Linked DNA regions of Homo sapiens. The protein of the gene in region 1 purifies or fractionates together with the protein of each later gene. This does not show direct contact. Each region holds a gene or a part of one and is shown in the gene's direction. Other genes may lie near its edges.

The links. The genes of interacting proteins can lie anywhere in the genome.
Region 2: the proteins of GET3 (region 1) and BAG6 purify together in Homo sapiens (co-immunoprecipitation; 5 studies listed by BioGRID and IntAct, with this or other methods). This does not show direct contact.
Region 3: the proteins of GET3 (region 1) and GET1 purify together in Homo sapiens (co-immunoprecipitation; 3 studies listed by BioGRID and IntAct, with this or other methods). This does not show direct contact.

What each region holds. Positions count from the first base shown.
Region 1 is NC_000019.10:12,733,608-12,740,502, forward strand, and holds the start of GET3 (ATPase GET3), read left to right. Parts: upstream 1-3,889; 5' UTR 3,890-3,898; coding exon 3,899-4,059; intron 4,060-4,903; coding exon 4,904-5,051; intron 5,052-6,895. Other genes in the region: TRIR (telomerase RNA component interacting RNase), read right to left, coding at 706-1,050.
Region 2 is NC_000006.12:31,649,660-31,656,943, reverse strand, and holds the start of BAG6 (large proline-rich protein BAG6), read left to right. Parts: upstream 1-4,282; 5' UTR 4,283-4,520; exon of another isoform or gene 4,521-4,544; intron 4,545-4,553; exon of another isoform or gene 4,554-4,709; intron 4,710-4,772; exon of another isoform or gene 4,773-5,078; intron 5,079-5,167; 5' UTR 5,168-5,180; coding exon 5,181-5,288; intron 5,289-7,284. Other genes in the region: APOM (apolipoprotein M), read right to left, coding at 318-472, 864-977. UniProt on the Homo sapiens protein: ATP-independent molecular chaperone preventing the aggregation of misfolded and hydrophobic patches-containing proteins.
Region 3 is NC_000021.9:39,375,778-39,383,327, forward strand, and holds the start of GET1 (guided entry of tail-anchored proteins factor 1), read left to right. Parts: upstream 1-4,548; 5' UTR 4,549-4,607; coding exon 4,608-4,709; exon of another isoform or gene 4,710-4,745; coding exon of another isoform or gene 4,746-4,775; exon of another isoform or gene 4,776-5,144; intron 5,145-7,550. Other genes in the region: GET1-SH3BGR (WRB-SH3BGR readthrough), read left to right, coding at 4,608-4,709. UniProt on the Homo sapiens protein: Required for the post-translational delivery of tail-anchored (TA) proteins to the endoplasmic reticulum (ER).

The sequences.
Region 1 (6,895 bases):
GAACTGCCCCAATTGAGAACCACCAGTTTAGCCCTTCCTGGAAGACAGGCTCTGTGCTAACCACTTTTCCAGGATCACCTCATAAAACCCTCACCACATCAAGAGATGCTATGATGTCTATTTTTGCAACTAGGGAAAATGAGGGTAGGCAAACCCAGAGGCTCCAGGAAAGCAGCGATCTTGTCTGTAAGCTCACCACTGCATACCAGCACCTAGCACAATGCCTAGCACGAGGTAAATTGCTCAATAAATGGAGGTTGGTCGAATAAGATACAAGGAAGTCAAGCAATTGTCCTAGATAAGTAATTGTCCTTACATAGTACGTGGTCTGAGTCTAACACATATAGCTCAGAGTCCAGACTTAAATTTACTCCCTTTCCTCACAATTAGTGGTGGTCCCATGACCCAAGGTCCGGGTACCACTCAAACAGGAATCCTGATATCCACGTTTCCTCATTCTCCACAGTGCTGATTCCTAGGCAATTCCTCAGCTCCCAGTTCCCACGGGCAAGCTCCTGGAGTCCCCACTCCCGCCCCTAGACCCCAGTTGTCGGGAATCCAAGTTCCACACCCTCAGCGGGTGACCCGGACGGGCCCCTCATTCAGAACGGAAAGTGGACTTCGGTCCCGATCCCCCTTCACGGGCCCCGACTCCCGCTGCCAAGACAGGCCGTGGCGCCCGCCCCCACCCCCACGGCTCCTTACGAAGCTAAGTGTGGAGCCCGGACCGCCCTTCCTCTTCGGATCCCCGGGGCCAGCGGCGGCGGCCGACTGGTCGGGTCGCTGCGGACCCGGGGGCGGCTCCTCCTGCCGCTGCCGCTGCTCCTCCTCCATCTTCCGCTTGAACAGCTCCAGGAAGCTGCCGTCGTTGGCGAACAAGTTCACGCCGCCCGACACCGGGCTCGAACCCGCGCCCGACACCTCCTCGTCCCCGCTCTCGGGCGACGTCCCCGATCCCGACTCAGCCCAACGGCTCCCGCCACCGCCACCGCCCGCGGGGCCCGGAGCCTCCCGGCCCTGAGGCTCCGCCCGTCTCCCTCGGGCAGCCATTTTGTCGCCAGGTGCCGCGCAAAGGACTCCGGGAAGGCCGCTCCGGCCCCGCGCTTGGCGCCCGACTCGCCTCGTCCCGAACAATGCATGCCGGGAAGAGCGGTCAGGCCCTCCAGCGCCCGCAGCGGGGGCGGGGCGAATGAGGGAACCAACCCGAAGGGGCGGGGCTAGGGGGAGGAGCCCCCGTCTCGCGGGTTTTTTTGTTTCGTTTTTTTTTTTTCTTTTTTTTTCAGACGGAGTTTCCCTCTTGTTTCCCAGGCTGGAGTGCAGTGGCGCGATCTCGGCTCACCACAACCTCCACCTCCCAGGTTCAAGCGATTCTCCTGCCTCAGCCTCCCGAGTAGCTGGGATTACAGACATGCGCCACCACGCCCAGCTAATTTTGTATTTTTAGTAGAGACGGGATTTCTCCATGTTGGTCAGGCTGGTAATCTCCCGACCTCAGGTGATCCGCCCGCCTCGGCCTCCCAAACTGCTGGGATTACAGGCATGAGCCACCGCGCCTGGCCTTGTTTTTTAAAAATTAGAGACGGGCGCCTGGCTATATTGCCCAGGCTGGTCTCGAACTCCTGGCCTCAAGCGATCCTCCTGCCTTGGCCTCCCCTCCCAAAGTGTTGGGATTACAGGCGTGAGCCATCGGGCCCAGTCTTGCTGTTTTGGTTTTTGGTTTTTTGTCTTGTTTTGGAGACAGAGTCACACTCCGTCTCCGAGGCTGGAGTGCAAAGGCATGATCAGGGCTCACTTCAGCCTCGACCTCTCAGGGCTGAGGCGATCCTCCCACCACAGCCTCCCGAGTAGCTGGAAACACAGGCATGCGCCACTACGCCTGGCTAATTTTATTTATTCATTTATTTATTTATTTATATTTGTGGAGACGGGGTTTTGTCATGTTGCCCAGGCTGTTCTCAAACTCCTAGGCTCCAGCAGTCCTCTTACCTCAGCCTCCCAAAGTGCTGGGATTACAGGCGTGAGCCACCGAGCCCTGCCTCTCGGGTTTTCAAAATTCAGCAGTACTCAGGCTGGAGTTCCCCATACAGGGGCTCCCGGAGAATGAGACTGTCGTCTGAGACTGGGGCTGTAGCTTGCTCTCTGGAGTTGGTTTCACTTGGGGCTAGGAACAGATTCGCTTTCCAGGGCTAGAATCCCCGTCTGACGACACCAAGAATAATCTCTATGAGTGGAAGGACCTCATCTGGGGCTGTGTGCTCAGCTGACACCTGGGAACTTGAATCCCTAACTGGGGAATAGAGAGCATGTCTAGTCTGGGCCCCCCAAGTAGAAATAGGGGTATCTTTGGGTTGGGTAACCATCTCTGGGATAAAGCTCACATTTGTTGGGGACATAGCTGGCTCTGTGGAGCTGAAGTCCCCGTCTGAGAATCAGCTTACTTTTTTATTTTATTATTGTTATTATTACTTTATTTTATTTTGTTTTATTTTATTTTTTGAGACGGAGTCTCTCTCTGTCGCCCAGGCTGGAGTGCAGTGGCGTGATCTCGGCTCACTGCAACCTCCGCCTCCCGAGTTCAAGCGATTCTTCTGCCTCAACCTGGTCTCGATTCCTGACCTCGTGATCTGCCTGCCTCGGCCTCCCAAAGTGCTGGGATTACAGGCGTGAGCCAACGCGCCCAGCCTATTTTATTTATTTATTTAGAGACGGAGTTTCACTCTTTCACCCAGGCTGGAGTGGAGTGAAGTGGCGCAATCTCGGCTCGCTGCAACCTCTGCCCTCCGGGTTCAAGCGATTCTCCTGCTTCAGCCTCCTAAGTAGCTGGGATTACAGGCGCGTGCCACCACGCCCGGCTAATTTTTGTATTTTTAGTAGAGACAGGTTTTCACCATCTTGGCCAGGCTGGTCCCGAACTCTTGACCTCAGGTGATCCACCCGCCTCAACCTCCCAAAGTGGTAGGATTACAGGCGTGAGCCACCGCGCCCGGCCCGAGAATCAGCTTATTTTATGAGCTGTAGTATTCAGATGAAGTCGGGGTTATTTCTAGTCTGTAGTCTCCCTCTAAAGTTAAGAGTGTCATGGGCTGGGGTCTCCATCAAGGGCCTGGAACCCAGCTTCTGTTCCTGCTCTAAGACAGAGGTTCAAACATGAAATATGGTATACTGGAGTCTTCTCTTGAAATACAAGGAGACTTTTAGGAATTCCTTCTACGAAACGGAGCGCAATTGCAGGAATGGTGTCTGCTAGGCATGGGAGATCAGGGCGTACAGGACAAGACTCTGTGGACTCGCCCACTCTAAGCCACTATCAGCCCGGGGACCTATCGCCAACCGAGTCAATTCGTCTATGATTGGTTTGCGGCAAGAGCCAAGAGGCTCACAGCCTATTGAATAACAGAGGGGGCGGACCTGAGGTGAGGTTGGGACCTACCGTGAAGAATAGAGGGAAAATGATGGACATAAAGTTGAGCCTATGGAGTCAGGCCAAGGAGGACCGGGAATCTAACTTCACCGAAAGGGCATGGACTGGGTGTTTGGCTGGTTGCTAAGGTGAGGTTGGCGCTACCGGAACATAAGAGTGATTGGTGTAAGTAAGAAAAGACATAGCCAATGAAAGGAGAGCTGCAAGACCTAGGGCCCAATCAGTGAAAGGGAGTAGCCTAGACCGTACCGATGTGTTCATTAGGTAGGGGGAACCCTTGGAAAATTATAGACCAGAGGTTGACAAAGTGAACCCTGGAAGCAAAGAATAGTGAAAATATAATTTATATTTCTCCTAAAAGGCAAGTAATGAGGAAATTAACTCATGCTCCTAGCTTCGCTAGGAATGTGATAGAGAATTTCCCCTGTAGGTTCTTCGTATGGTGCGCTCCGCTGGATCACGTGAGCCAGTTCCAAAATGGCGGCAGGGGTGGCCGGGTGGGGGGTTGAGGCAGAGGAGTTCGAAGATGCTCCTGATGTGGAGCCGCTGGAGCCTACACTTAGCAACATCATCGAGCAGCGCAGCCTGAAGTGGATCTTCGTCGGGGGCAAGGGTGGTGTGGGCAAGACCACCTGCAGGTAAGGAGGCTGCGGCGGGGGCCAGGAGGCGTGTAGGATATACCACTGGGCGAAGGGGAGGCCAAGGACCGGCTTTTCCACCACGACCGGGGCATGGGGGCTGGCGGGGGTCTTTGGGTTTCACTCTCTGGAAGTTACCTGGAGCAAATGAGAAAGACCTCAATGCAGCCCTAGCACCCTCTGAGTTGGACCATCCGTGTTGGGGCTCAAGTGCCGAACCACAGTGAACTCAGCGCCCGGGGGACGGGGAAGCACTTAGATATCCCCATCAGCTGGACCGTACCTGAGTGAATCCAGAGTTGTGGGTGAGGGCGGCACCAGAACAAGCAATCCTAGTTTGGTGAACCTTGGTGTTTTATGCCCAAGGCGAGAGTGAGGGTGGAAAGCGAGGGAGAGAGCACGTGATGAGACTGTCCCAGGCAGCTACAGGCAGGAGGTGTCCGTTGGACAGATTATCCTGGACAAGCAGACTGAACCATCCTGTGCTTACTAGGGAATGCAGGAGACCCCTTAGCTTATTAAGGAAGGGGGCACGGAGTCAAGCTATGCTGGCTGGACCGCTGGGCCATGCCACTGTGCCCAGCAAAAAAGAAGCAGGCACTAGGCCAGACAGACTCAGTCAGCTGAACCTTACCTCTCTAGTCCACATAGAGGGGTCAGGAGATAAATCAGAGAGGGTTCCTTTGTAGGGACTGAGGCTCAATCCCACCATAACCCATACTCTCCTCTCAAGGCCCCTGCTGATTCGGGTCACCTGCTCCAGGGAACCTACCACTCCCCTTGCAGACCCAGGGAACAGAGCCCATCCCCTCATCCCCTATCTTTTGACTTTTCCATTACTCAGCTGCAGCCTGGCAGTCCAGCTCTCCAAGGGGCGTGAGAGTGTTCTGATCATCTCCACAGACCCAGCACACAACATCTCAGATGCTTTTGACCAGAAGTTCTCAAAGGTGCCTACCAAGGTCAAAGGCTATGACAACCTCTTTGCTATGGTGAGTGGAACAGGGCTTAGCCCCCACTTCTGGGAAAAGCCTCTTCCAGCCTTTCTTGTGCGCACACACCAGCAGCCACCGTGTCCTATCCACTCTATATCCTGTGTCTCTCGTGTTTCACTCCTTCCTCAACATACTCACAAGGGAACCAATGAGGAATTGCAGAGCAGGAAGCACACCAGAGTGCCTGAAGCTTAGTGAGCCAGGGTAGGGGAAGGAGAAGTTGGAGAGACCAATCAGAGCCACATGGTGTGGGACCTTATGGGCCACTAAGAAGTTTGGCATTGACTCCAGGTTATTAACGGGAAGCTGTTTGTTTTAAGCAGGGCAATGTCGTGGCCAAATTCATGTTTGAAAAGTACCCTTTGACGGCCAGGTGGAGATTTAATTGTCAGTCAGGGTAGAAGCAGGGAAACTAACAAGGAGATTGGGGGTGTAACCAGTTGAGAGATGACAACATCCTGGACTCTGGTGGAGGCAGAATGTTGGGGGAGAAGTAGTCAGACTTGAGGTTTTTTTTTTTTTTAGACACTCAAGACTCCTCTGTCTCCCAGGCTGGAGTGCAGTAACCCGATCTAGGCTGACTGCAACCTCCGCCTCCCAGGTTCAAGCAATGCTCCTGCCTCAGCCTCCCGAGTAGCTGGCACTACAGGCTTGCGCCACCACTGCCTGTTAATTTTGTTTTTTTTAGGAGACAGGTTTTCACCATATTGGCCAGGCTGGTCTCAAACTCCTGACCTCAAGTGATCTGACTGCCTCGGCCTCCCACAGTGCTGGGATTACAGGCATGAGCCACCACATCGCACCAGGGATGTATTTTGGAAGTAAACCAGTAAGATTACTTGGGTGAGAAAAAGAAATGAATTGATTACATGTCTTTCTTGTCTCTCTGAGCAGCTGGGATGGGGAAAACTAGGAAAGGAGTAGGTTTAGAATGAACAAATAAAGAATTTCATTTTGTCCACAGTGAATCTGAGTTGCCCACTGGAAATCCAAGTGTAAACATCATGACAGTAGCTTGTTTATGTGAGTCTGGAGCCCAGAGGAGGTTGGCATTGATTTGGAAGTCACTGTCTCAAGGGTGGCATTTAAAGCTGTGTGAGGGCTGGGCATGGTGGCTCATTCCTGTAATCCTAGCACTTTGAGAAGCCAAGGTGGGCGGATCACTTGAGGTCAAGAGTTTGAGACCAGCCTGGCCAACATGGTGAAACCCCATCACTACTAAAAATATAAACCAATTAGCTGGGCATGGTGGCAGGTGCCTGTAATACCAGCTACTCAGAAGGCTAAGGTAGGAGAATCGCTAGAACCCAGGAAGCAGAGATTCTCCTGCCTCAGCCTCCGGAGTTGCTGGGATTACAGGTGCCTACCACCATGCCCGGCTAATTTTTGTATTTTTAGTAGAGACGAGGTTTTCTCACGTCTCAAAAAAAAAAAAAATTGGCTGGGCGCAGTGGCTCACTCCTGTCATCCCAGCACTGTGGGAGACCGAGGCGGGTGGATCACAAGGTCAGGAGATCAAGACCCTCCTGGCTAACACGGTGAAAGCCCATCTCTACTAAAAATACAAAAAATAGCTGGGCATGGTGGCAGGCGCCTTTAGTCCCAGCTGCTCAGGAGGCTGAGGCAGGAGAGTGGCGTGAACCCCGGAGGCGGAGCTTGCAGTGAGCTGAGATCGCGCCACTGCACTCCAGCCTGGGCGACAGAGCAACACTCTGTCTCAAAAAAATAATAAAGGCCGGGCACGGTGGCTCACATCTGTAATCTCAGCACTTTGGGAGGCTGAGGCGGGCAGATCACAAGGTCAAGAGACTGAGACCATCTTGGCTAACACGGTGAAACCT
Region 2 (7,284 bases), on another chromosome or scaffold:
CGATCTCCTGACCTCGTGATCTGTCCGCCTCAGCCTCCCAAAGTGCTGGGATTACAGGCGTGAGCCACCACGTCTGGCCTGTCCCGGCTTCTATTTACTCCATTGTATTTGTTATTGAAGCCCAGCTCTCCTTGGGTTTCAAGCTACCAAGCATTGGTTAGGCACATCTTTCTCCAGAGGGCAATTAATACAGCCACTGAATTCCGTGGGCCAAGCATAGTAGATATACCAGCTAAGAGGCCAGCTCTTGGTGGGTGGATTCTCACACTTTGGGCAGAGACTGAACCCAGTGATGCTTCTGCCTCCTTACCACTCACATGCGGATGGTAGCACGAAGGTGGAGCTGCATCGGGGCAGAGCCAGCAGCCATATTGAAGACAATGTTGTCCACAGGGTCAAAAGTTGCCAACTCCTCCTTGGTGGGAGCTGCCCCTGCGATAAAGTACCACTGGCCCAAGTGGACCTCTGGGAACTGGAGAGACAATGAAGGGAGCAAAAGAGGGTGGGTTCCAGCACAGGATGGGTTCAACCTCTTCATCAGTCAAAACAGCAAGATTTAGGGGTAGAGGTGTTGGCTGCCTTCCTCTTTCCAACTGGGGATTGGATCCATGACAAAGAGTCATTAAATGACTTTTCCTCTTTGCCCCTCCCCAGTCAACCTGGGTAACCACCCCACCCCCCAATTCTGCCATGCCTCTGCATTGATGGCCACAGTACTGATATTTTTCTTCTTGCTTTCATTATCACAACACTCACACCCCCTTCCTCTCTTCCTTTCCCAAGATGGTCTCCAGTCATCCTAGGCCATCCACCCAAGTCCCTCAGAGCCTCCACCATAGGCTTCCCCCAATCTCAGTCCATACCTCCTTCCCATCCACGCCCAGAGTTGTCAGTTGACTGTGCTCAGGGCACTGGTAGATGGAGTTAAGGATAATACCATAGAAGTAGAGCAGAGCTGCCCAAATTTGGTGGAACATCTTCAGGCAGGAGGGAGCTGGTGCTCTGTGTGCCTTAACTGCTCTCTCCCCTACTGGCTGCTCAGTCCACTCTGCTTTCAGCTCCCTTGCGTTCGACCCTTGACCCTTTCACCTGCTAATGAGTAACTTCAACCTTGTTTTCCAACCCAAACCTGGATTACTTAGTGTTTGGGACTTCCTCCCCCTCTTCCGGATGCAACCACTCCATAGTACACCCTGGCATGTCCAGGGTTTCTCAGGAGTTATGAGGAGAGCTGAGCTGTCCAGGGAGAAGCCTGTGGTCTTTGAACCTGTATCTGAGCTGGTTATTTGTTGCACTGTGCAGCACTGAAGGGAAGTAGCTTGACTGGGCCTCTCATTCATTCACTTAGCAAACTGTTTTGAATCCCAAGTCCCAGTTGTTTCCCAAGAACTAGCTAATCCCCGGGGACATAAAAAAACGAATAAGACATAGCCCCTGATCTTGAAGAAGTCGTTAGAGGGAAAACTAGCTGTGTAGACAAACCATTGCAATACAACTTGGTAAATGCTTTAGAACAGGTATGATGCAGGTGCTGGGGCACGGTGGATTGCTCTCTTTAGTTTACAATTAGAAAAATATGTATACCCTGGCAGTGTTCACTGACACATTCACTCAACATTTATTACTACAAAGAGGCTATGTAATCTGGCTGTTAGAGAGGATAGATGTTGGTGTCAGGCAGAATGTGTCCAAACCCTAACTACAGGCAGGGCAGGTAGCTCATGCCTGTAATCTCAGCACTTTGAGAGGCCAAGGTGGGCGGATGGCTTGAGCCCAGGAGTTCAAAACCAGCCTGGGCTACATGGCAAAACTCTGTCTCTACAAAAAATACAAAAATTAGCCGATGTGGTGGCACACGCCTGTAGTCCCAGCTACTAGGGAGGCTGAGGAGGGAGGATTGCTTGAGCCTGGGATGTCGAGGCTGCAATGAGCCCTGATTGTGCCACTGCACTCCAGCTTGGGCGACAGAGACTCTGTCTCCAAACAAACAAAACACCACCAACCCCTAACTGCTATGTCTGTTTTTTCATCTGTAAAATTGGCAAATCATCAATCTTATAGGATTAAATGAAATAATGCACATAAAGCCCTTAGCAAAGACTTGCACATGGTAAGTCCAAAGTATATATTTGCTATAATTAATAGTAATGTTTGCAAAGCACTTAGTTTCTGGTGGGTAATAAGTTCTCAAATAATAGGCAGTAAGAATTGCCAAATAGGTTGTCCTTGGATAGCACCAAGTGACTGGAGCAGTTAATGCTGTGAGAGATGGATCTTCCTCGATAGATTATTTATTTACTTATTTATTTTTAAGACAGGGTCTCACTCTGTCGCCCAGGCATGACTTTGACTTCCCCGGCTCAGATGATTCCCGAGTAGGAGGTATAGGTGCACGCCATCACGCCTAGCTAATTTTTTGTAGACACGGAGTTTCACCATGTTGCCCCAGGCTGGTATTAAACTCCTGAGCTCAAGCAGTCGGCCCACCTTAGCCTCCTAAAGTGTTGGGATTACAGGCATGAGCCACCACACCTAGCTTGATAAATTTATATCCCATGGACTGCCACAAAAAATTTGCCGAGGGCTGAGGCTTGCGATTTAGTTAAAAAACAAACAAAATTTGGGTGACCAGTATATTAGAGTTTATTAATACTGTTCTATTTTGGTGTAATGTTTGAATTTTTTTTTTTTTTTTTTTGAGATGGGAGTCTCGTTCTGTTGCCCAAGCTGGAGTGCAGTGGCGCGATCTTGGCTCACTGCAATCTCCACCTCCCGGGTTCAAAGCAATTCTCTGCCTCAGCCTCCCAAGTAGCTGGGATTACAGGCGCCCGCCACCACGCCAGGCTAATTTTTGTATTTTTAGTAGAGATGGGGTTTCACCATTTTGGCCAGGCTGGTCTTGAACTCCTGACCTCGTGATCCACCCGCCTCATCCTCCCAAGTGTGAGTCACTGCGCCCGGCCGAAAATTTTTGTAATAAAAAGCTAAAATGTGGTTAGGCACAGTAGCTCACACCTATAATCCCAGCACTTTGGGAGGCCAAGTCTGCAAGACCAGGCTGGGCAACATAGCAAGACCCCATCTCTATAAAAATAAAATTAGCCAGGTGTGGTGGTGTGCATCTGTGGTCCCTACTAGGGAGGCTGAGGTGGGAAGATCGGTTGGGCTCGGGAGGCAGAGGCTACAGTGAGTTGTGATTGCGCCACTGCACTCCAGCCTGGGCGACAAAGCGAGACCCTCTCTCAAAAAAATAAGCTAAAATGTTAACAGCTTTTTATTGGGGCAGTAAAGTACAAGTGCTCGATCTGGAGTCCTGTAGGCCTGGATTTGTCAATTCTGACACTTATGTTCGTCTAAGTGTACTCACTTAAAAAATGTTAAAAGCTCGTTAAAAGGCTTTTTAAAATAATACACAAAACCCGTAGTATATGGGCTGGCACAAGTGCTCATTAAACAGCTGCTTATTAGAACTCTTAACTAAAATATAACCAGGACCTGGGTATAAACTACGAATCCCAGAAAGGTTGGACACCCCAACAGCGATGTGTCTTTCTGGAGGACTCGCAGTTTCGCGGGGCCGAGGCCCTTGGCCCAGGGCAGGTTAAGAGAAGAGGGCACGGAGAGGCGGTAATGCCTCCACCCCCGGCCTTCGGAAGCACGCTGGCCGGCCTTTAAATTCCCCACGGTCAGGGTCTTGTCTTTCTGTCCACTCGGACTCCATTTGCTCCCAATTCTCAAACTCGGAAGCGCCTCTTTTCTTGACAAGTCGTGCAACTTAGTAGCACGTTTACTTTTCCTAAAACGTGTCATGTCCCCTTGGCCACACACCGACGAATGTGACGCCCACAGCCCTTAAAACGCCCACCCGGCAGAACCGAAATCTAGCCCAACCAAGCAACCGAGAACAAAATTGACCAGTGCCGCCCCCAAACGCCTACTGAAAGAGTAACTTCCGGAGGCACAGAAGAAAGGGCGCAGCGAGGGCAATAGGGTGGAGAAGAGTTTTAGCTGGCTAGGACAGTGCCGCCTGAAATTATCAGCCTGCCAAGATTTAAACATAGATGAATGTGGCATAATCCCCCATCTCCAAAGTCCAAGGTCCATACGACCGTCCATAGCCCCTCTCGAGGCAGTGGTAGAGTCCCAGCTGGTGACTGTTTTTCAGGCATTTACGGTAGCCACCTCAATCTTCTAGCGCTCAAGCGCGCGCACAGACGTGAACGCCGCCAGAGGGGGGAGGGGGTGGGGCGATGCTTAAGTGTCCACGCATCCGTAGTGCGACGCACGCAGGCGTAGTACGGTCCCCCGGGCGACAGCGGTGGCGGCTCCTCGGGGTGCTCGGCTCCCTCCCACCTAGGCCGGCCCCGGCCCGACTCGCCCTCAGAAACTCACTGTTTGGGGCTGCGGACTTTCTCGTCGTGCCCCACAAAAGTAAAGCTTGGGGACCTGGGGGGAGCCGGAAGTATCGCTTCGAGATCCCCAAATACTATCGGGGAAACGGAAGTGGCCGTCGGTGGCAGGTTTGGGGGAGACCGGAAGTGACGGTCCGTGGGGAAGTCGGGGGCGGAGCCGCGGGGTGGTGGGTGTGTGTGTGTGTGTGTGTGTGTGTGTGTGTGTGTGTGTTTGGCTGTGGGTTAGTTGTGCCGTTCTGCTGGAACACCGTGGGAAGGCAGTAGACGCGGGCAGTCAGCTAGCAGGTCTGTCGCCCCGTGAGTGCCGTTTCGGGTCTATAGTGAGTTAGGAGGGTTCGATGGGCGTGGCGCGCGTGCGCGAAACCACTTTCTCCGCAGAGTGTGGGGCGACCACCGCTTTCGCGTTGTCCCAGGATTTTCCGACCTCTGGGGCGCTTGTCCTGCCGTGACCGGTGATGACACTAGTCTCTGGTCTCGTGCTTCCTTCCTAATCTGACTGGCTCCCTGCTTATTGTGATTGGCGTCGTGGAGCCCCTCCCACCTCTCGTCCTCCAGCTCCCTAAGCCGTCGATCTCCTGCCCTTTGTGTTTCTCTCCCTGTGCCCCGGAATCAGAAGGGGGATGGGGACAGGTGTGAATGTGTGTGTGTGCAGGAGAAACTTTTTAGGTATTGGGGCAGGGATTAATGCTAGGGAGTCTTTCGGGTACACTCTGGTCTGGGCAACAGCGGGCCTTCCTTCCTTCGTTCTTCTTTAGAGACCTGTCGGCCATGGAGCCTAATGATAGTACCAGTACCGCTGTGGAGGAGCCTGACAGCTTGGAGGTGTTGGTGAAGACCTTGGACTCTCAAACTCGTACCTTTATTGTGGGGGCCCAGGTGAGACACCTCACTAGTTCTGGAAGACACCTTTAGCTTTTCCTCGTTTAGGCCCCTTAGCCTGAGAGATGAGCTTGATTTTCTGGTCACCAGATTTTCTTTTTTTTTCTTTTTTTTGAGATGGAGTCACGCCCTGTCTTCCAGGCTGGAGTGCAGTGGCGCGATCTCGACTCACTGAAACTTCCACCTCTTGGGTTCAAGCGATTTTCCTATCTCAGCCTCCTGAGTAGCTGGGATTATAGGCGTGTGCCACTATACCCAGCTGATTTTTGTATTTTTAGTAGAGACGGGGTTTCACCATGTTGGTCAGGCTGGTCTCGAACTCCTTACCTCAGGTGATGTGCCCTCCTCGGCCTCCCAAAGTGCTGGTATTACAGGCATGAGCCACCGCACCTGGCCTCAGATTTTATTTTTATTGATCCCTTTGTTCGTATTCCAGTAGAACGTTTTCTGATGTTTTGTGAGTGAGGCTGATTTTGTTCTGTCCTCCACATGGATAGAACTTAATGCAGAGGGAAATACAGAGGAAGGAAGAATCTGTGTGTCATCATCATGGGTGGACCCCAACCCAAAGGGACAGGCATGGCTCTGGCCTTTGGGAAGGGAAACAGCACAGGAACCCTAAGCAAGTGTGTCTTACTGATAGACATTGGTCAGGTCTATGCTGTGTTCTTAAAGGGTAGAAATCAGAACCCATAATGGAGATAGGTCCTTGATAGACTGTTGAGTGAAATTACTAATTTTTATGGCATAGCTTGAGTCTCTTGAGCTTAAAGCCTTGGACATAGCTATCTGTGTCTTTACTCCTGTAATACTTGGAGACAAATTGCATGTGGGGTGGTCCATGGTTTTCTAAAATGTGATATTACCTGGATATAAGAAAGCCATATATAGACTTGTGATTAGATGTATATAAATACTCTGGTACTTCCCAAGAGTCAGTTTGTAGTTAGGAAAAATATTTCTCTTTTTGCTTTTTTTTTTTTTTTTGAGATGGAGTTTTGCTCTTGTTGCCCAGGATGGAGGGCTGGGGCGCAATCTCAGCTCACTGCAACCTCTGCCTCCTGGGTTCAAGCAATTTTCCTGCCTCAGCCTCCTGAGTATCTGGGATTACAGACGACGCCTACTACCACGCCCGGCTAATTTTTGTATTTTTAGTAGAGACAGGGTTTTACCGTGTTGGCCAGGCTGGTCTTGAACTCCTGACCTCAGGTGATCCACCTGCCTCGGCCTCCCAAAGTGCTGGGATTACAGGTGTGAGCCACTGTGCTGGGACCTTTTTTGCTTTCTTATCTTCTTAGTCTTTCTTCATTAACCTGATACCAGACCCCATCTTCTTTGCCATTTTTTAATCTTGGAAATCACAGGAGAGTCTGGTAAATAAACTGGTATCATCTTGTGTTTGGAAAGGGGTCACTGATGTCTCTAGACACATACTCCCTTGGATGCCAGACAGATAATATAATGTCCATGTGTTTTTTTTTTGTTTTTCATCCGTGTTATTTTTCCTGGATCTATAACCTGAGCTTCATTAAGTTTATTTATTTAATTTTTTGAGATGGAGTCCCTCTCTGTCACCCAGGCTAGAGTGTAGTGATGCGATCTCGGCTCACTGCAACCTCCGCCTCCCGAATTCAAGTGATTCTCTTGCTTCAGCCTCCCTAGTAGCTGGGATTACAGGCGACCACCATGCCTGGCTTATTTTTTTGTATTTTTGGTAAAAAAGGGGTTTTACCATGTTGGCCAGGCTGGTCTCGAACTCCTGACCTAATGTGATCTGCCTGCCTTGGCCTCCCAAAGTGCTGGGATTACAGGTGTGAGCCACCGCGCCAAGCCAAATTTATTGTCTGTATTTTGACAGCTGTTACTTTAGTTTAAGGGTTTGCACAGTAATGATCTCACGGTCAAGACAAACGGGTAGTGATTCTGTGGTGGTTTTTACCCCTCACCTCCACAACTCGGTTGTCTGTCTTTGTTCTTCCTCTTTCCTCCATTC
Region 3 (7,550 bases), on another chromosome or scaffold:
GATCTGCCACCTTGGCCTCCCAAAGTGCTAGGATCACAGGCATGAGCCATCATGCCTGGCCAACAACTTTGATTATTTAAGGTATAATGTAACCTTGTTGGCTCTAGTCTCTGAACTGTGTTTCTCATTGTAATAATGATTCTAGCACTATTTTCCCCAAATATGTGCTTCTCCAAATGGTTTTCCTTCTTTTGCCTGAATTCACTACTATCTGATTGGCTTGCATAACCACTAAGTAAATTAGCATGCAGAGCAATAGGTCTAGAACTTGCCTATTGATTCCAAATTTCATTTCTAATCTTTCCTATATTGTAAGTAAACATTCTTTTTTTTTTTTTTTTTTTTTTTTTGAGACTGAGTTGCACTCTGTCACCAGGCTGGAGTGCAATGGTGCCATCTCGGCTCACTGCAACCTCCGCCTCCTGGGTTCAAGTGATTCTCCTGCCTCAGCTTCCCAAGTAGCTGGGATTACAGGTGTGTGCCAACATGCCCAGCTATTTTTTGTATTTTTAGTAGAGATGGGGTTTCACCATGTTGGCCAGGCTGCTCTCAAGCTCCCAGCCTCAGGTGATCCACCCACCTCGGCCTCCCAAAGTGCTGGGATTATAGGCGTGAGCCATCGCCCCCAGCCAGCACCTGTTTTTAGGTCATCATTTCTGTTGGGGTTTAAGAGTTGAATACCCATATCACATTGACCAGGAATTAATTGATTGTAGAGACGAAGTCTTGCTATGTTGCTCAGTGTGGTTTTGAACTCCTGGGTTCAAAACCCTCTCAAACTATTGGGATTACAGGCATGAGCTACCGTGCCCAGCCTTTGACCAGGAATTTAAAATCCACTTATTTTCATGATTTATATTGATTTCTGGCTGAAGCCAACACTCTTCACTGGATTTATTCAACTCACAGATTTCAATGTTTGGTTCCCATCTTGTCCACTTTAAGGTGCATTTTATGTGCAATAAAAGGTGTTCAGACATTTTAAAAAGATTCTCTATTTGAAATTTTTTTAGGGACTCCTGAGCCTCTGACATATGTCCCAATTACCCTATTCTCAGGTCAGGCTGAGGTGGGGCATGTGCCTGGATCCATCGAACAGTGATTGATTGGAAGCAACTGATGTTATTTCTCCAGTAGTGCTTGGAAGCTTATGGTTTTCCTCTGGCAACCAACACCATGTTCATTAATAAACCAGTAATAGGCTTCTTCTCTGTGGAGTTTCTCTTGCTGCCATCTTGGTTCATTTTCACGAATGATTATGGTATTTACAGTAGGCAGAATACTGTCCCCCCACCATGTCCACAACCTAATCCCCAGCACATGTGAATATGTTACTTTTTGTGGCAAATGGACTTTGCAGATGTAATTAAGTTAACAATTTTAAATGGAGAGATTATTTTGGTTTAGCCACATGGATCCAGTATAATCACAAAGATTCTTCTAGAGTGAAAGAGGGAAGCAGGAGAGCCAGGGAAGATGTAACAATGGAAGCAGGAGTCAGAGAACTGTGCCTGCTGGATTTGACAAGGAAGAGGGATGCAAGACCAGGAACGCAGGCAGCCTCTAGAAGCTGGAAAAAGCAAAGAAATGGATTCTCCCGTGAACCACCAGAAGGAACTCAGCTTTGCTTTTATTTTTAGCCCAATAAGACTCATTTCAGGTATCTTTCTCCTGGAACTGTGAGATAATAAAGTTAAGCCACTGAGTTCATGGTAATATGTTACAGCAGCATTAAGAAATGAACAGTCTTGTTCTTGTTATGAGCTTTGTTTACTATCTTAACCTGTGCTAGATGTAGATTGACTCATGCTGAAACACCCTGGCTCTCACATTGCTTTCCATGTGTTGGAAGAGGGTCTCCGCCTTCCATTGTTGGTGCTTTTGTGAAGTGCTGCTCACAGGAAGCAACAGGAGAGGGTTGAGTTCTTCAGACTGGGTTGCCTGTGAAGCCCGGGTGCTGCTGCTTCTCTCCCACCGCTGCTGCAAAGTTGAGGACATGCTCCAGGGTTTTTTTTTTGTTAGGAGTTCTCGACTGTCCAGGAATTAGGTAATCCTTTTCCTGAAGATAGGTGGCAGTGGGGTGTGGTAGTGGACTTCTCTTTAGCCAGAGGCAGAGACTGGGGGCGGGTGAAAGGGGTCCAGTGGGGTCGGGGCTGTCATCACTTTTCCTTTTTTTTTTCTTGTTTTTTGAGATTGAGTCTCTCTGTTGCTCAGGCTGGAGTGCAACAGTGTGATCTGGGCTCACTGCAATCTCCGCCTCCTGGGTTCAAGTGATTCTACTGCCTCAGCCTCTTGAGTAGCTGGGATTACAGGCGTGTGCCATGCGCCACCACGCCCGACTAATTTTTGTATTTTTAGGAGAGATGGGTTTTCACCATGTTGATCAGGCTGGTCTCGAACTCCTGACCTCAGGTGATCTACCCACCTCGGCCTCCCAAAATACTGGGATTACAGGCATGAGCCACCATGCTTGGCCTGTCATCACTTTTCAAGAGGCAGTTTCTCCTTCTAAATCCATCTCAATCTCCAGTGAGAGAGGAGCCAGGAGCCTGGCTGCCGTGCTGCGTGGTCCATCCAGGTGGAAGGGAAGGCTATGGAGGAGAGCCAGACTCCTGCTCTTTGTTTTGGTCAGTTCAGAAGTCACTTAACCAATAAGTCCTTTCAGGGAAGGAATTCACTCTACCACTACAGAATAGTTTTGCTTCACATGTTTTCTTGACACAGAAATTTGTAGAACCACAGCCTCTTTCTTTTCTTTTCTTTTTCTTTTTCTCTTTCTTTCTCTCTTTCTTTCCTTTCCTTTCCCTTTCTTTCTTTCTTTCTTTCTTTCTTTCTTTCTTTCTTTCTTTCTTTCTTTCTTTCTTTCTTTCTTTCTGTCTCTCTCTCTCTCTTTCTTTCTTTCTTTCTTTCTTTTTCTCTTTCTCTTTCTCTCTTTCTTTCTTTCTTGACAGAGTTTCACTCTTGTCACCCAGGCTGGAGTGCAATGGTGCGATCTCAACTCACTGCAACCTCCGCCTCCCAGGTTCAAGCGATTCTCCTTCTTCTGCCTCCTGAGTAGCTGGGACTACAGGTGCCCGCCACCACACCCAGCTAATTTTTGTATTTTTAATAGAGACAGGGTTTTGCCATGTTGGTCAGGCTGGTCTCGAACTCCTGACCTTAGGTGGTCCACCTGCCTCGGCTTCCCAGAGTGCTGGGATTACAGGCTTGAGCCACTGTGCCCAGCCGCATAATTATTTTAACTGGTTCATAATAATGAGCCAGAGTTGTGCTCTGTCGCCCAGGCTGGAGTCCAGTGGTGTGATCACAGCTCACTGCAGCCTCGACCTCCCAGGCTCAGGCGATCCTCTCATCTCAGCCTCCCTAGTAGCTGAGGCCACAGGCACGTGCCACAGTGCCCGGCTAATTTTTATATTTTATTGTAGAGATGGGGATCTCACTATGTTACCCAGACTGGTTTCAAACTCCTGGGCCTGTGATCCACCTTGCTTGGATCTCCCAAAGTGCTGGGATTACAGGCGTGAGCCAGTGTACCCGCAATCTTGCATCATTTTGATTAGGAATTAGTCCTCAGAAACCAGTCATGGCAGCATGGCAGAAGAGACAGTTGAACATGTCTTGCTTTATCCACTAGGCATACTTTTTTTTTTTTTTGAGACGGAGTCTCGCTCTGTCGCCAGAGCTGGAGTGCAGTGGCGCGATCTTGGCTAACTGCAACCTCCGTCTTCCGGGTTCAAGCGATTCTCCTGCCTCAGCCTCCGGAGTAGCTGGGACTACAGGCGCGCGCCACCACGCCCGGCTAATTTTTGTATCGTAGAGACGGGGTTTCACCATGTTGGCCAGGCTGGTTTCAATCTCTTGACCTCATGACCTGCCCGCCTCGGCCTCTCAAAGTGCTGGGATTACAGGCGTGAGCCACCTCGCCCTGCTCACTTTGCATACATTTGAGTTGGGATTCTTTCGCTGCAAAACCTGATCTTCACCTAGATTCAGGTTAATTTATTAACTATTACTAATGATTGTGAACAGTGCATTCTATTAAACTTATTTTTCAGGTATGCAGTTGTGTAAATTGGTTAGACTTACTACAGTGTTTAGATCTGGAACGAAAACGTAAGGCATTTTCCATGTAACTGCTTGGAACACGACAGTTACCTGCTACTATAAAAACGGTAGTTTTCTATTTATGGAAGAGTTTTTCTTAAACTTATCTAGAATTAAAAGTTAATTTAAAGAAAGTACTAATTATGACAAAAGCAGGGAGTCGTTAGCACTTGAAACCAGAGTTTGGTACTATGAGAAGGTTTTTAATTTTAAAAAGAAGGAAAAAAAGAAACACGGACGTCAGAAAACTGGTTCAGTAGGGATGGGTGCTAGAAGGCTACGGAACCGCCGAAGGCCCAGGAGAAACCCGGAACGTGTTAACCGCTCCAACTGGAGCCGGACGAAAAAACGGCCCCGCCTCCCGCGAGGGCGACGCAGTTCGCAGGCGCGTCGGCGCGCCTGTTCTGGGGCGCTTGGCTTCACCGCGCAGGCGCGGTCGCCGCTGTTGTTGTGGTCCCCATGGAGCTGCCGTAGCGGACCCAGCACAGCCAGGAGCGTCCGGGATGAGCTCAGCCGCGGCCGACCACTGGGCGTGGTTGCTGGTGCTCAGCTTCGTGTTTGGATGCAATGTTCTTAGGATCCTCCTCCCGTCCTTCTCATCCTTCGTAAGTGGCTGCCTGGCCTCCCAAGGGCCGGTGGGGATGCCGCCCCAGTCCCCCGGCGGGTCTGGCGTAGGTACAGGGGTCTCAACTGGGCGACTGAAGGCCGTAGTAGCGTCTTGGTTGGTCCGTAAGCTTTTTTGAGATAGTTGTTAGCGTCTAAAAGGTACGACGCTTTACCCCAAAATCAGACTTTCTGGGTTCTAGGGGGTTGGGAGAAACACCGGGCAACCCTGGACTCTTCTGGCTGTGGGTGGCGGCGGCGAACCTCACACTGGGAGTTCCTAGTGCCCCGCTGTCAGCCTCGTTTCCGTTAATCCTGGTTCCTAGAGGCATTCGAGCAGCCCTCGGCCAGGGTTTCCCAGAGGCCTGGCGGGCGAAGTCAGCTGTTCCAGGTCCCGGAGAGATGGATCCTCGCGTCCAGGAGCCCACATTCTTGGGGTGGGTAGGGTGGGAGACAGGTGTAGAGAGAATCTCAGTACAGCGTGATGCCTTCAGTATCCAAGGGAGCAACCAGGTTGGGGAACACTCTCTTTCTGCCAGGTAGTGAGTACATTACCTCTGTCTCACGGCTGCTGGGAGAGGCGAGTATTATCATCCCACCCTCCTTTACCTCCCGGAGGAGTCTGGCTCAAGAGAATTTAGTGGTGGCACTAAGTCATCCACCTAGTGACTGGAGGTGGAGATTTGATTGCCTTTTGGAGCAGGGATAGGGATTTGGTGGCAAATTGGACAGGGCGTGGTGGGGTGTGGCCATGGAAGGCGGGGGTACCTTGGGAACTGTCCCCGAGAATGAGCGCCCTCCGTATGCCCACAGCAGAAATGAGGAGCTGTTGGGCAAAGGCGGAGTCCTCAAAGATTGGGCGCATTCGTTTCAGCGTTGTCTTGGAAAACAGTTCTTGCTTTTCTCTCCTAAGATAAATTGGTAGTAGTGGAGGATATTTTATTCCACCAGTATTCATTGAGTGCCTGTTTTGTGCAAAACTCTATTCTTACTCTCTCAATTGTCCTACTGTCTGCATTGTCCTGAGATATAGGGAATTCTCTTTTAACCCCTGAGTCTCCTTCAGAATCTTTCCTGATGCTATCCAGTCTTTAAGATGATGTCTCAGGCATTGCATAAAAGACTCCTGATGAGCTGGCCCATGCTCATCTTCTTGTTTTTAATTGTAAAATACACATAATATGAAGTTTATCATCTTTATCATTTTTAGGTGTACAGTTCAGTGGCATTAAGTACATTCACATTTTTGTGCAACCATTATCCCAGAACTTTATTATTATTATTTTAAGACAGGGTCTGGCTCTGTGCAGTGGTGTAATCTCGACTCATTGCAACCTCTGCCTCCCAGGTTCAAGTGATCCTCCCACCTCAGCCTCCCAAGTAGCTGGGACCACAGGCATGCACCACCACGCCCAGGTATTTTTTTGTATTTTTAGTAGAGACAGAGCTTTGCCATGTTGGCCAGGCTGGTCTCAAACTCCTGACCTCAAGCCATCCACCCATCCTGGCCTCCCAAAGTGCTGGGATTACAGGTGTGAACCACTGCACGTGGCCCCGCTCCCAGAACATTTTCTTTTTTTTTTTTTTTGAGACAGAGTCTCACTCTGTTGCCTATGTAGGAGTGCAGTGGCCTGATCTTGGCTCACTGCAGCCTCCACCTTCCAGGTTCAAGCGATTCTCCTGCCTCAGCCTCCCAGGTAGCTGTGATTACCAGTACCTGCCACCATGCCCGGCTAATTTTTGTATTTTTAATAGAGACGGGGTCTCACTATGTTGCCCAGGTTGGTCTCAAACTCCTGACCTCAAGTGATCTGTGCTCCTTGGCCTCCCAAAGTGCTAGGATTACAGGCGTGTGCCACCACGCCTGGCCCCATCCCAGAACTTTTTTTATCTCCTCTAACCGAAACTCTCGCACTCATTAAACAACAACTTTCCATTCCTACCTCTCCCTGGCAATCACCATTGTACTTTCTGCCTCTGTGAATTTGACTACTCTTGGGACCTCATATAAGTGGAATCAGACAGTATTTTTCCTTTTGTGACTGGCTTCTTTTCACTCAGCATAATATCCTTAAGGTTCATCCATGGTGTATCATGAGTCAGGATTTCCTCCCCTTTTAAGGCTGAATAGTATCCCATTGTATGTATAGGCCACATTTTGTTTATTAGTTCATCTGTCTATGGACACTTGGGTTGTTTCTACCTTTTGACTATTGTAGATAATGCTAAAATGTTTACAAATATCTCTTTGAGTCTCTGCTTTCAGTTTTTCTGGACATATACCCAGCAGTGGAATTCCTGAATCTATGGTAATTCTATGTTGAATTTTTTTGAAAAACCACCATACTGTTTTCCATAGCAGCCACACCATTCGACATTCTCACCAGCAGTGCAGAAGGGTTCCAGTTGCTCCATATCCTTCAACATGTATTTTGTTTTCTTATTTATTTATTCTTTTTATTTTTTTATTTATTTTTATTTTTTGAGATGGAGTCTTGCTCCGTTGCCCAGGCTGGAGTGCAGTAGCGCAGTCTCGGCTCACTGCAAGCTCCGCCTCCCGGGTTCACACCATTCTCCTGCCTCAGCCTCCCGAGTAGCTGGGACTACAGGTGCCCACCACCACCACAACCGGCTAATTTTTTTGTATTTTTAGTAGAGACGAGGTTTCACCGAATTAGCCAGGATGGTCTCGATCTCCTGACCTTGTGATCTGCCCGCCTTGGCCTCCCAAAGTGCTGGGATTACAGGCTTGTGCCACCGCGCCCAGCCTATTTTTTTTTTTATTATTTATTTTATTTTGTTTATTTATTTTTTGAGACAGAGTCTTGCTCTTGTTGCCCAGG